3 linked regions of the Homo sapiens genome follow. The protein of the gene in region 2 purifies or fractionates together with the protein of the main gene of each other region. This does not show direct contact. Each region holds a gene or a part of one and is shown on either strand. Other genes may lie near its edges. The genes, in order: STON2, CCDC32 and NUDT9.

Region 1 (3,650 bases), on a different chromosome or scaffold from region 2:
TGAAAGACAACCGCAAGAGATGGTAATCACAGCAGCACAGGTTGGCTCTGGTTTGCTACTAGAGGATCCAGGAAGAAGCCCAGTGGATTTCTGCTCAATTCTGAGCACTGCGCTATGTCTTTGAATATCCACACCTAGCAGAACTATACAGAGGAAGTGCTTAGTAAATATCTGGTGACTCAATGAGTAAATTATAAGGAGCTGTAAGGTTTAGGGACAAAGCACACTGACATGCACACATCTCCTTAAGAAATACCCTGCATCGTGAGCTGGGATCGCGCCACTGCACTCCAGAGCCTGGGCAACAGAGCGAGACTCCGTCTCAAAAAACAAAACAAAAAACAAACAAACAAACAAACAAACAAAAAGTCCTGCATCATTACAGATTTACAGATGCTCCCCTAATTCAGACTGACTCATTCTCAGCCTTATGCAAAGGGTTCCATTTTAAGATTTTACAGACTTAGTACATTAGTTTCCTATGGCTGCTGTAACAAATTACCACAAACTTGGTATCTCAAAACAACAGTAATTTATTCTCTCACAGTTCTGGAAGCCAGAGTCTGAGATGAGAATCACTGTGCTAAAATCAAGATGTCAGCAGAACTGCACTCCCCGCAGAGGCTTTAAGGAAGCATCTGTTTCTTGTATCTTGCAGCTTCTGGTGGCTGCCGGCATTCCTTGGCTGTGGCTTCATCACTAAAATCTTTAAGATCAGCATTTTCAAATTTCTTTCTGTTTCATCTTCACAGTGCCTTCTCTTCTGTGTAAGCAAAATCGCCCTCTGCCACTTTCATAAGGATGCATGTGATTGCAGTTAAGGCCCACAGATAATCCAGAATTATCTCCCCATCTCAAAATCCTTACTCTCATCTACAAAGACCCTTTTCCCAAATATGATAATATTTATAGGTTCCAGGGAGGACAACCTAATGTCTTTGGGAGCCATTACTCAGCTTAGTATTACTGGAAGAACAGAGCAGGTAGCAGTGATTGCAGCAAGTCTCACACTGTCTCTACTTGCTGCAAACATCTGTGTTATTTCTGCATAATGCCTGCAGTTACATATGTGGTATTATTGCAATATACAGCACATGCATTCAAACATTTTGGATTCAAATTAAAATCTGAGCTGCACAACAGCCTCCTGAATGGAATGACTGTGTAACTTGGGGAATGTCTACATTATCCATTATGTGGGGGCAGGAGTGGGGGGCTAACGCCTAGTCTCTCCTGTGTAATTGGCCTTAGCTCTGCCAATTACTCTATCCTTATTGTTAAACACAATCCATGGGAGGAAACCCAAGAGGGAATTAGCTTATGTGGGAGAGGTTAGTTTGGGTAATAGGAATGTACTCTGCAGCTTTTGATTCAGTTTAGGTTCATTGATGGGTCAAGTTGGGTATTGGCAGAAAATTTGGAATTGAACCATTTTCTTTACCACTCTAATGCTGTGCACCGTCCCCTATGCTCCTTGGGTTTCCAGGTTAGAAACACTTCTTGAGGTGGGGCTGGCCCTCCACATGGTTTATTTCTGCTTCTTGCCTACAGACTGGGCATCAAGTCTGCTGGGAACCCATCCTACAGGACCCTCCTAAGGTAGAAAACTCCATCTCCACAGGGTTGAGTTAAATTTTCACACATATGAACAGATGGAATTATTCATACTTGAGCAGTTTTCAAAATTATGCTTTCATGCATTTGAACACTGTCATTTCTTGATTTATTCTCTAGTAATATTAATACATCTAAAATTCTTAGGACAATGCAGGGCTGAGATTAGGCTAAGGCAAGTGACACACTTGCCTTGGAGGTAAAATTTAAGAGGGTGCCAAAAAACTCAGTAATCAAAGTAACATTTTAAGGCAATATGTTAAAAATATCAACTCAAAATCAAAGCAGCAAACTACAGCTCACAGGTTGACTATCTCTGTAAATAAAGCTTTATTAGAACCAGTGAGACAGCCAGAGGGGAGGGGGTTCCCAGAAAAACTCCAACTGGCCTGTGCACTGGGGTGGAGCTGCGGAAGTTTGTGCCACTTGCAGCAGGGAAGAGCCTGGCCCCTCCTCTTCCTGTGTGGAACCTGGGATTTGGGCGCGGTCCGGAAGTGCTCTAGATGAACTCTGGCCTCGCTGAGAGTCCCTGTTTCCCCTCTTTTTTCCTTTTCACCCAATAAAGCCCTGCTTTACTTACCCTTCAAACCATCTGTGAGCCTGAATTTTCATGGCTGTGGGATGGACAAGGACCCCATCTTTAGCTGAACTTTAGGAAAATTCCTGCAACACCAGGTCCAGGTGGGCCAAGTGTAGCATAGTCATGAAAGTGTTAATTGAATCTTGTCTTTAAAGTACTGATATTTTGTTCATTAAGAATTTTTTGCATTATGTGATTTTAAAAAATAATTTTAAAATAACTTTAATTTTTAAACTGAATTCTTAAATATTTTTTTAAAAACTTTTTTTTCAAGACAATTATTACAATTTGATATGGAGCAAAAGTGCTTCATGTATTTTTTCCCAATCTGTCACAGAGAATGTTAAAAAGACATACTCAAGAATCACAATTTTAAGAAATTAATAATTTTTACTGCCTCATCAAGGATATTATTGGGTGAAATATACATTTTGTTTTACTGTGAGTAGACAATGGCCAAAAGTTTCATCTGCTGTTATTTTTTAACCATCAATGCAAATGTCAATGCAGTGAAAAGGCAAATAACATCTTAGAATTAGAATGAAAATGATTTTAACCCCAAAGACGCCTTGAAAGGGTCTCAGGAGACAGCAAGGTCTATGGGCCAGACTGTGAATTGCTGCCTTAAAGGGTAAAGCTTTCACAATATATCAAAAGCATTGTCAGTCACAAGATAAGATCCTCAGTCAGATGGGGGCAACATAATTATGACTAATCTCAAAATTAGTTTTGGAAAAATCAGTGAAGAGTTGAGCAAATTGACTGTCATATAAATAGTTTTGAGCAATCAGGAAATCTTTGAGGCTAAAGATAAAATGTGAAAGAATCTGAATGGCATGAATATAATCCATGACCTGAAGGCACGGCCATTTTAGGGCAGCAAAGTGGAGAAAGAGCACCCCACCCATCACTTACCTTCCATTCCTTGCCCCCACTGCCTCCTGGGTAATGAGGGAGCAGAGGATACTAGAGCAGCAGCAGCAGCAGCAGCAGGAAGAGTGAGGCAAACGGAAGGAGAGCACAGGGCATCCGAAGGCTGCTCCAAGACCTTGGGGCCGGTCAGCCTGGTGCGGAAGCTCTCCTGCCATTTCCTAGCACACAATCTTGGTTGAATTCCCAAAGCCCACTTCTGGCTGAGTCTCCTCCACCATGTGTAATATGGATTAATATTAATACCTTCCTCATACAATTGTTGTAAGGAGTACATGATATGAAGTAGCTAAGGCACTGAGCACAGAAACTGAGACAATAAGTATGCAGTAAATGTATCATATTAAGCAGAAGGAACATTATTTCTGTGCTCATTCACTGCCCAGTGTTCCGTAACTTTTCCCTACATGCATCAACACTTAGCCCAGAGCCTTCTCAGTGTTAGGTGTTCAGTAAGGGAAGCCTGTCTGGACCTGTCACTTCTTCCACGCTGCACTGAGAGTCATGACTCAATGACAATTCATGC
Region 2 (3,650 bases):
GATTTTAGGCATCTCTTGGTATATGGGGGAATTTATGTTTTGGATAGTCGGATTTCTCAGCCCATTACTCCCTTGCCAAAAGCATACCACAAGGAGGATCACCTACCTGGCCCTCACATACGTGAAGACCTATACAACCCCATTGTAAAATGGCCTCTGTTTAAAAGATAAACTTTGAAGAACTAGTGTTTCCTGGTGTTTGTTCTGGATAATGATAGAAAGAAACATTCCCACAGATGTAGGCTCTGGGGAAAAATCTAAATGTCAGAGGGCAATGAGAGCGGCTGATTGACTCTAGTGCTCACAGCTCAGGGGAATCAGGTGTGACACAGCATTTAATCTTCATTTACCACACTTTTCATCAAATTGTTCAAATTATTTCCATAGAGAAGGGAAATCTACATTATTTTACATATTGATAAATACGTAGGAACATGCTGATCTGATTTCAGAGAAAGAGGATTTCTACTTGAAAATGACACAGGAGAAAGTTTTGTCTTTTCTTCTCAGAGCTGGAGAGAAGAGAGGTATTCAGGGGGACAGAATATAAGTAAATACCAAATTATCAGTGGGTCAGGAGTCTGCATCTTCAAATCTCCTATGTTTGGAGCAATTTAAGACTTAATTAGGTTGGACCTTTAGAGATAGAAAAGAGCAAAATGTATATAATTTCCTGAACCCTCAGAGGAGAGTTGGCCTGACCTTAGATGCTACGCTGATTTCTGAAGCATCTAGAGGCATGCTGATTAAGCATTTGAGATAATGTAAGTGAAAGTATTTTACACATTTGCAAGTAAATGTACCTATGAAGTTTTATTCACATACTGTCCTGATTTCGGCAGCAGTACTTCTTCTGATATGATGGGATTCTCAACACCAATGTCCATATGTTGGAAACTCAAGTTAAATCACATTCCCCTAAGATCTTTTGTTAAAATTCAATTTTTTACTCCCCCCCATTGATTTTTACTTTGAATAATTTCTTACCAAACTCTAAAATTCTGTAGGAAGGATAATATTAGTAACAGCCAACACTTCTATAGTGCTTACCATGTGCTAGGCATTGTTCTATACCCTTTACAAATAGTAACTCATTTAACCCTCATAACAACTTATGAGGTAAGAGCTGATTGCTCCCATTTCACAGATCAGGAAACTGAGGCACACATAGGTTACTTACCCAAGAACATACAACCAGTAAGTGGCAGAGCCGATTTCCTGAGTGTCGAGCCCCATTCCTGCTCATTGTGGCAGGGCAGCATGCCCTCTCTATCTTTCTGCATCTAAACTACTTGCAGGTACTGTTCAAGTCCTGCCTCCCTCTATGGCAAAACACCAAAGCCAGGAGGGAGCTCAGTGGCCTCTCAATTCCCAAAGCACATTCTGTCACTTCTACTCAACTGGCCCTTCTCTTATTAATGCCTGGTATTGTTAGGTATGTCTTTATATATATTTGTCATCTGCCCTCAAGTAGTTTTGAGGACAAAAACAAATGGGTTTAAAACTTCCTTACACCATTCCCTCCATGACACCAAGCACAGTGCTATCACACAGTGGATGCTTAATAAATTCATTAATTTAGTCTGCGTAAATTCATTGAGTGGCTACAATCTGACAAAAATTCTGTAAGGCAGGCCAGGTGCAGTGGCTCCCGCTTGTAATCCCAGCACTTTGTGAGGCCGAGGCAGGCAGATCACCTGAGGTCAGAAGTTTGAGACCAGCCTGGCCAACATGGTGAAACTCCATCTCTACTAAAAATACAAAAATTAGCCGGGTGTTGTGGCACACGCCTGTAGTCCCGGCTACTCAGGAAGCTGAGGCACAAGAATTGCTTGAACCCAGGAGGCAGAGATTGCAGTGAGCCGAGATCGTGCCACTGCACTCCAGCCTGGGCAACAGAGCGAGATTCCATCTCAAAAAAAAAAAAAAAAAATCTGTAAAGCAGTGGAAATTCAGAGGTAAGAAGAGATGAAGAGATAGTTCCAGAAAATAATCTCTCTGAGGAGTAAATGGTTTTTCCTTTTGTTACAGTAACATGGTTTCCAAACCTCATGAGAAAGAATTCAAGAACATGAGAGACTGATTAGTTACTACTTTCTCAAGTTCATTGCATACTTAAAAATGAACACAATGCTTTATCCTTAACTCTATTCAATCTGTGACCAACACGTAGCTGCAGTATTTGCCTTTTGGCAAAAAAGTCTGTTCTTAAAAATCTACTGCTGGGCTAAAAACAAATAGAACAACTACATAAAGGATGATTTCAGCTGGAACTAGACGGGGAATCGATTACCTCTCATCAGAATCAAGTCCATCCACAAAGAACTCTGAAGCTAACTTCTCCTGGAGGAACCGATCCCAGCATTCCTTCTTGGCTTGGGCCAGAGTTCGAAGCATGTCCTTGGAAGTCACTTCCTGATTTAAACCTTTGATTCTTCTTAGCTTCTTCTCTAGAGAGAGAAGTAGAGCTTAACAAGGAAAATGAGCATGACATGAAATTTTAACTAAATCTAAAACTCAAAATACTAACTTAAAAAATCTCTCACCGATGAGGACATCCACACTCCCTGCCAAAGAGGTCATTTTTTAAGGACAGATAAAAGGGAATTGAACATTCTTCCTTTTTCCTTCACAAAGTCCTCACCCTGCATTGTATCAAATAAATGTTTAACCCGAGAAAAGGGAAAAGCCATAGGTTCTCATAAATAAGTCAATGGCATGTTTTCTTTGAAATCACGTAAGCCCAGCAGGTATCTCTCTAAGGAATGCTTGTTTTCCCTGGTTTGACATGTGTATACTACTGTCTTTTTTCAACTCCTTGAAAATAATCTCTCTGAGGAGTAAGTGGTTTTTTCTTTTTGTTACAGTAACATGAAGTGGTTTCCAAATCTCATGAGAAAGAATTAGAGAAAATGATGAAAGATCCAACGGTTCATTAGATATTAAAATTGACTTGATGAGAACTCAATAAGAGACCTTTAAAATCTCTATGTGTGATTAAATTCTTAATAAAAAGAATCTCCCAACATTTTTTAAAGTTGCTCAACTTGTGGCCTAGATGTTGGAGTCTAATAAAAACAAATGTCTTCTAATCCCATGACAGTGCTCCATATGGCTTCTTGATGATAGAGGTTAAATTACTCTTGTTTGCATTTTAACTCTAATTGTTTAACAGATTTCCCCTTTCGAAGAATACAAGAAAGGACATCACCATTTACCGTCTGCCTTAATTTAGTTTGCCTTCAACTATAAGTACATAGGTTAATGATGGCATGGTGGGGTGGTGAACATCAAGCTTAGAACCAATAGAAACTATGATTTGCAGTTCTGTTTTCATTTCTAAAAAAGTCACATCAGCTAACACCCACTGATCAAAACAAATACCTTTTGTTCCTGTTATTACCACCATGAGCTCACCCATGTAAAAAAAACCTGCAGTTGATAAATGTTAAATATTTGCAGGGTTTGTTTTCTCCTTGAGGATATAAAAAGGGTTATCCATAGCATACATTTAAGTTTTTAATTATTGCTGTTATCAGTGGATTCTCTTTGATATAGGTTATTTAACAATAAAAACAATCTTCATATTGTCTGGCCTCAGTTGTCAAAGTGGAAGGTACTCTTTTGGGCCGGAAAAGGTCTTCCTCTCT
Region 3 (4,385 bases), on a different chromosome or scaffold from region 2:
CTCAAAAAAAAAAAAAAAAAAAAGGAAAAGAACACTAGGGACACGGTCTTGCTGTGCCACTCAGGCTGGAATGCAGTGATGCGATCATAGCTTACCACAGCCTCAAACTCAACTCCTGAGCTCAAGCAATCCTACTGATCACTTAGTAGTCTCTGAGCCTACTCTGATCCTACTGATAGTGAGGACTACACATGCATGCCACCAGGCCCAGTTTTTTTTTTTTAGAGACAAGGGTCTTGCTAAGTTGCCTAGACTGGTCTCAAACTCCTGGCCTCACACGATCCTCCTGCCTCAGCCTTCCAAAGCACTGGGATTACAGGTGTTAGCCACTGTGCCTGGCCATAAAATTCTTTTTTTGTTTTTCTTGAGACATTGTATCACTCTGTCACCCAGAATGGAATGCAGTGGCATGATCTCAGCTCACTGCAACCTCCACCTCCCCGGTTCAAGCTATTCTGCCACATTAGTTACCAGGTACTTGGCACATTTGTTAACTGTTGGCTTTTTCTTTCAAGTCAGTACAGTCTCTGGTTCTGGATATACCTGCCTCATGTAGGGTTCCCAGAGTTACAAAAACGAAGAATAACTGTCAAGCAACTTTACACTGTTCTGCTGGCATCTAACAAAAAGAGCATTAGAGATTTCCAGAGAGCACACACGTGTATTCCTTCCTTCCTCAAATCCCACTAAAAGAAGATAAAGATAGATAAAGGGAAATAAAATCCGTACCAGGAGAAGGAATAAATGCCACCAGTGAATGACAGATGGTAACCAACTTCAGGAAAATGAAAAGTTGTTGGAATATTGACCTACAAACCAGAGTAGGACAAAGTAAAATAAGAATATGCACCAAGGCCGGGCGCGGTGGCTCACGCCTGTAATCCCAGCACTTTGGGAGGCCGAGACGGGCGGATCACGAGGTCAAGAGTTCAAGACCAGATCAGCCTAACCAAGATGGTGAAACCCTGTCTCTACTAAAAATACAAAAAAAATTAGCCGGGCGTGCGCGCGCCAGTAATCTCAGCTACTCAAGAGGCTGAGGCAGAAGAATCGCTTGAACCCAGGAGGCGGAAGTTGCAGTGAGCCGAGATCGCGCCACTGCGCTCCAGCCTGGGCGACAGAGCGAAACTCCTTCTCAAAAAAAAAAAAAAAAAAAAAAACGCATTAGGGAGAAATGCTATTCCTACAAGCTGAGCCGAGCTAGAGGTTTCAAGCTTGAAGTCAGTGGGCCCAAGGATCATAAACTGGCAGCGCGACAATAACCATGGAAATCACTCAGTCCTCCTCCCTCCCCAATCTCCAAGCAAAAAGTCCAAAATAGTTATGTTTGTCTCCAAGATAAAATCAAAAGTTTTTTAGAAATGAAGGGGTAGGACCCCTACTGTGAATACTGGTGTTAAGAGTACACAGCAGAAACTTAGGCTTAATAATTTTACAGTTCACACGGAGGAAATAAACAGCTATACTCAGCAGAGAAGTTGCTCCACCACTACTGCAAAGCCTGAAGCAAAAGGCAGGTTCCCAGTCTACCCATCTGGTACCTGCTCACATGCCCTCAACTGAAACCTTCCTATCTAGGCAACCTGGTACAGAGCCAAAAGTCAATTAGCGACCCATGTACTGAAAACAAGACCTATTACTCATATTAATCAAAATATAGACAGATAACCAGTGCCCATCACATGTTCGAGAAAAAGCAACAGAAGGAAACAGGACCAAAAAGACACAGAACAATTGACCAACAGTAAGTAAATTATTTAGGAAATAGATTTTTCTAATTATCATCTTTGTAGATTCAAGACTTTTAATATCTATAAAATAAGAAAAGGCTGCTGCACCTAGGACCCTGTGTTTACTAACTCAAAGAATAAAAACTGGAGAAGGGAAGAACAGAAGGAGGCAGTGTAAGACACCATAAATCCCTAAATTTAACCACAATAGACAAATTATTAAAAAAAAGGAGGTAGATAGTAAATATAATATATTGTCCACCCTGGAAAGGGGACAGGGGGAATAGTGATTTTACTTTTCATTTTACATTTTCAAGTTGTTTTAACTATGTACATGTATTAATACTAATAATAATGTTTTAAGTATTAACCATAAAAAAATGGCACGGGACACCACCACCCCAAACAATTGCTATTTAAACTCTCTCGTGATACTAACAATGATTTACAGAGAATGGCAAATTTCAAAATCAGAAGTCAAGAAGGGTCCCTGCCACTCGTTTTCCTCAAAAGGCAGATAAAATATTTTAGAGCCTTTTTGAAAACTTGTATATGACTATAAAAACCCGAGAGGCAAAGCAAAGCCTACAGAATACGCCAGAAAAAAAAGCTGCTTCCCACCCCCAACTCAAGGTCTAGGGCAAAGGAGCCGGTAGTAGGAGGGTGGAATACCTGAACGCCTGGATGCCGCGGCAGCGCGAGGACCTGATAGTCACAGAGGCCAAGGCCAGAGAGAGAGACACCGCGGCTAAAGCCTTTCCCAGGAGGCGTCCCGCCATGAGCGCCCCGAGGGCGGCTTTGCGATGCTAGGTCGCTCTTAGTTGGTGCCTCCGCCTCCCCACACCCCACAGCTCCGAGTCCCGGCCGCGGGTATCTGATGGGCACTAGGACCTGTCTGCCGTTGGGTTCCCGAACGGGAGTAGCTGTGCCTATCTATAAATCACAGATCAAGAGCCCTCCCACGATAAGAGTCCACCGCTTTCCCCAGTGCATCGAGAAAAATCCAGACCAGCACGTGACGCCGAAGCCTCCAGCGCCAGCTGCCTGGGGAAACCGCGGCCACGAACCTCGTAACTTTCTCTCTGCGTAATGGCGCTTTACGGCCGCGCCGCAAAGCAAAGGTCGTGCGTTGCCGGCTTGGTAGCGCCTTCCTTCTCCGACTTCCCAGACTTCCCAGTCTGCGCAGGCTTACTTGGGGACGCAGGGAACTACCAAGAAAGTGTCAGAGGAAAGGAAAGGTGAAACAGACGAGGAACTGGAACGGGAATAAGTGGGAAAGAAGCCAAGGGGTTTGAGAGAGACTTGCTGCCCTGGGTTTTTGGTTTTTGTTTTTTGAGACAAGAGTCTGGCTCTGTCGCCCAGGCTGCAGTGCAGGGGCGCGATTTCAGCTCATTGCCGCCTCAACCTCCTGGGCTTAAGCGAGTCTCTTGTCTCAGCCCCCGACGTAGCTGGGACTACAGGCACACACCGCCATACCTGGCTAATTTTTGTATGTTTTGTAGCGACAGATTTTTGCCATGTTGCCCAGGCTGGTCTCCAACTCTCAAGCTCAAATAATCCAACTGTTTGGGCCTCCCACAGTGCTGAGGTTACAGGCCTCAGCCAACGCGCCTGGCCCTGCTCTGGTTTTTTTAGGGAGTAAGTTGTTGCGGAAGGACGCAGGTCTTAGCCATATTTTTGAATAATACTTCGTTATGGGAATGAAACCGCCTTTGCAAAATTATGACTGATTTGGGAGGCCGAGGCGGGATCACTTGCAGTCAGGAGTTCAAGACCAGCCTGGCCAACGTGGTGAAACCTCGTCTCTACTAAAAATACAAAAATTAGCTGGGCATGGTGGTAAACGCGCCTGTAGTCCCAGCTGCTCAGGAGGATGAAGCAGGAGAATCGCTTGAACCCGGGAGGTGGAGGTTGCAGTGAGCCAACGTCGCACCACTGCACTCCACCCTGGGCGACAAGAGTGAAACTACGTATCAAAAAAAAAAAGAAAAAACCTCTGCTCCCTGAATGCTCAGGGAGACTGATTTGAGTAATAATAGAACTCCGGTCTCACACAGCTGGCTCTGCATGAATTACTCTTTCTCTATTGCAATTCCCCTGTCTTGATGAATCAGCTCTGTCTAGGAAGCGGGAAAGGTGAACCCCTTGGGCGGTTACAGCAAGAGGAGATAGTCCAGAGACTCAGCCCTCGTATCTTGAAGGGTTTCTTGGTTTTTTGTTTTTGTTTTCTTAACCAAGTTGTCTGCTCCAATTGCTGGATTTCATTCACAAGGCTTTGCTAGGACCAGTTGTGGCCCTTGGAAACTCGTGGAGGAGAAAAGCTGTGAAAATAGGCACACATGCTGGAGGAGGAACAGAGGGCAACACACATAATACTGGATAATAAACTTGAGAGGCAAAAATTAAACAAACCGACAAACAAAGTTGGAAACCCAGACTGTCCAAAGCAGCTTGTAATCAGGCTTACTTCATTTATATTAGCTTATTGATGTGGCAACTATTTGACTTTTACTTACATGATCCGCTGTTTCTGTGGTGTGGTTCCAATACACCGACGTTACAAAACTTTGACCATCTTAAAAGCCAGATTAATCGAATTTTAACAACCATTGTTCTGAAAACTGCAGAACTCTCGACAGGTATTGACTGTTCAAA

What was found.
Region 1: the proteins of CCDC32 (region 2) and STON2 purify together in Homo sapiens (affinity purification with mass spectrometry; one large-scale study listed by BioGRID and IntAct). This does not show direct contact.
Region 3: the proteins of CCDC32 (region 2) and NUDT9 purify together in Homo sapiens (affinity purification with mass spectrometry; one large-scale study listed by BioGRID and IntAct). This does not show direct contact.

Annotation. Positions count from the first base shown.
Region 1 is NC_000014.9:81,390,242-81,393,891, forward strand, and holds part of STON2 (stonin-2), read right to left. Parts: intron 1-3,650. UniProt on the Homo sapiens protein: Adapter protein involved in endocytic machinery. Involved in the synaptic vesicle recycling. May facilitate clathrin-coated vesicle uncoating.
Region 2 is NC_000015.10:40,554,923-40,558,572, forward strand, and holds part of CCDC32 (coiled-coil domain-containing protein 32), read right to left. Parts: intron 2,469-3,650; coding exon of another isoform or gene 2,451-2,468; coding exon 2,294-2,450; intron 1-2,293. UniProt on the Homo sapiens protein: Regulates clathrin-mediated endocytsois of cargos such as transferrin probably through the association and modulation of adaptor protein complex 2 (AP-2). Has a role in ciliogenesis. Required for proper cephalic and left/right axis development.
Region 3 is NC_000004.12:87,421,030-87,425,414, reverse strand, and holds the start of NUDT9 (ADP-ribose pyrophosphatase, mitochondrial isoform a precursor), read right to left. Parts: upstream 2,843-4,385; 5' UTR 2,510-2,842; coding exon 2,403-2,509; intron 1-2,402.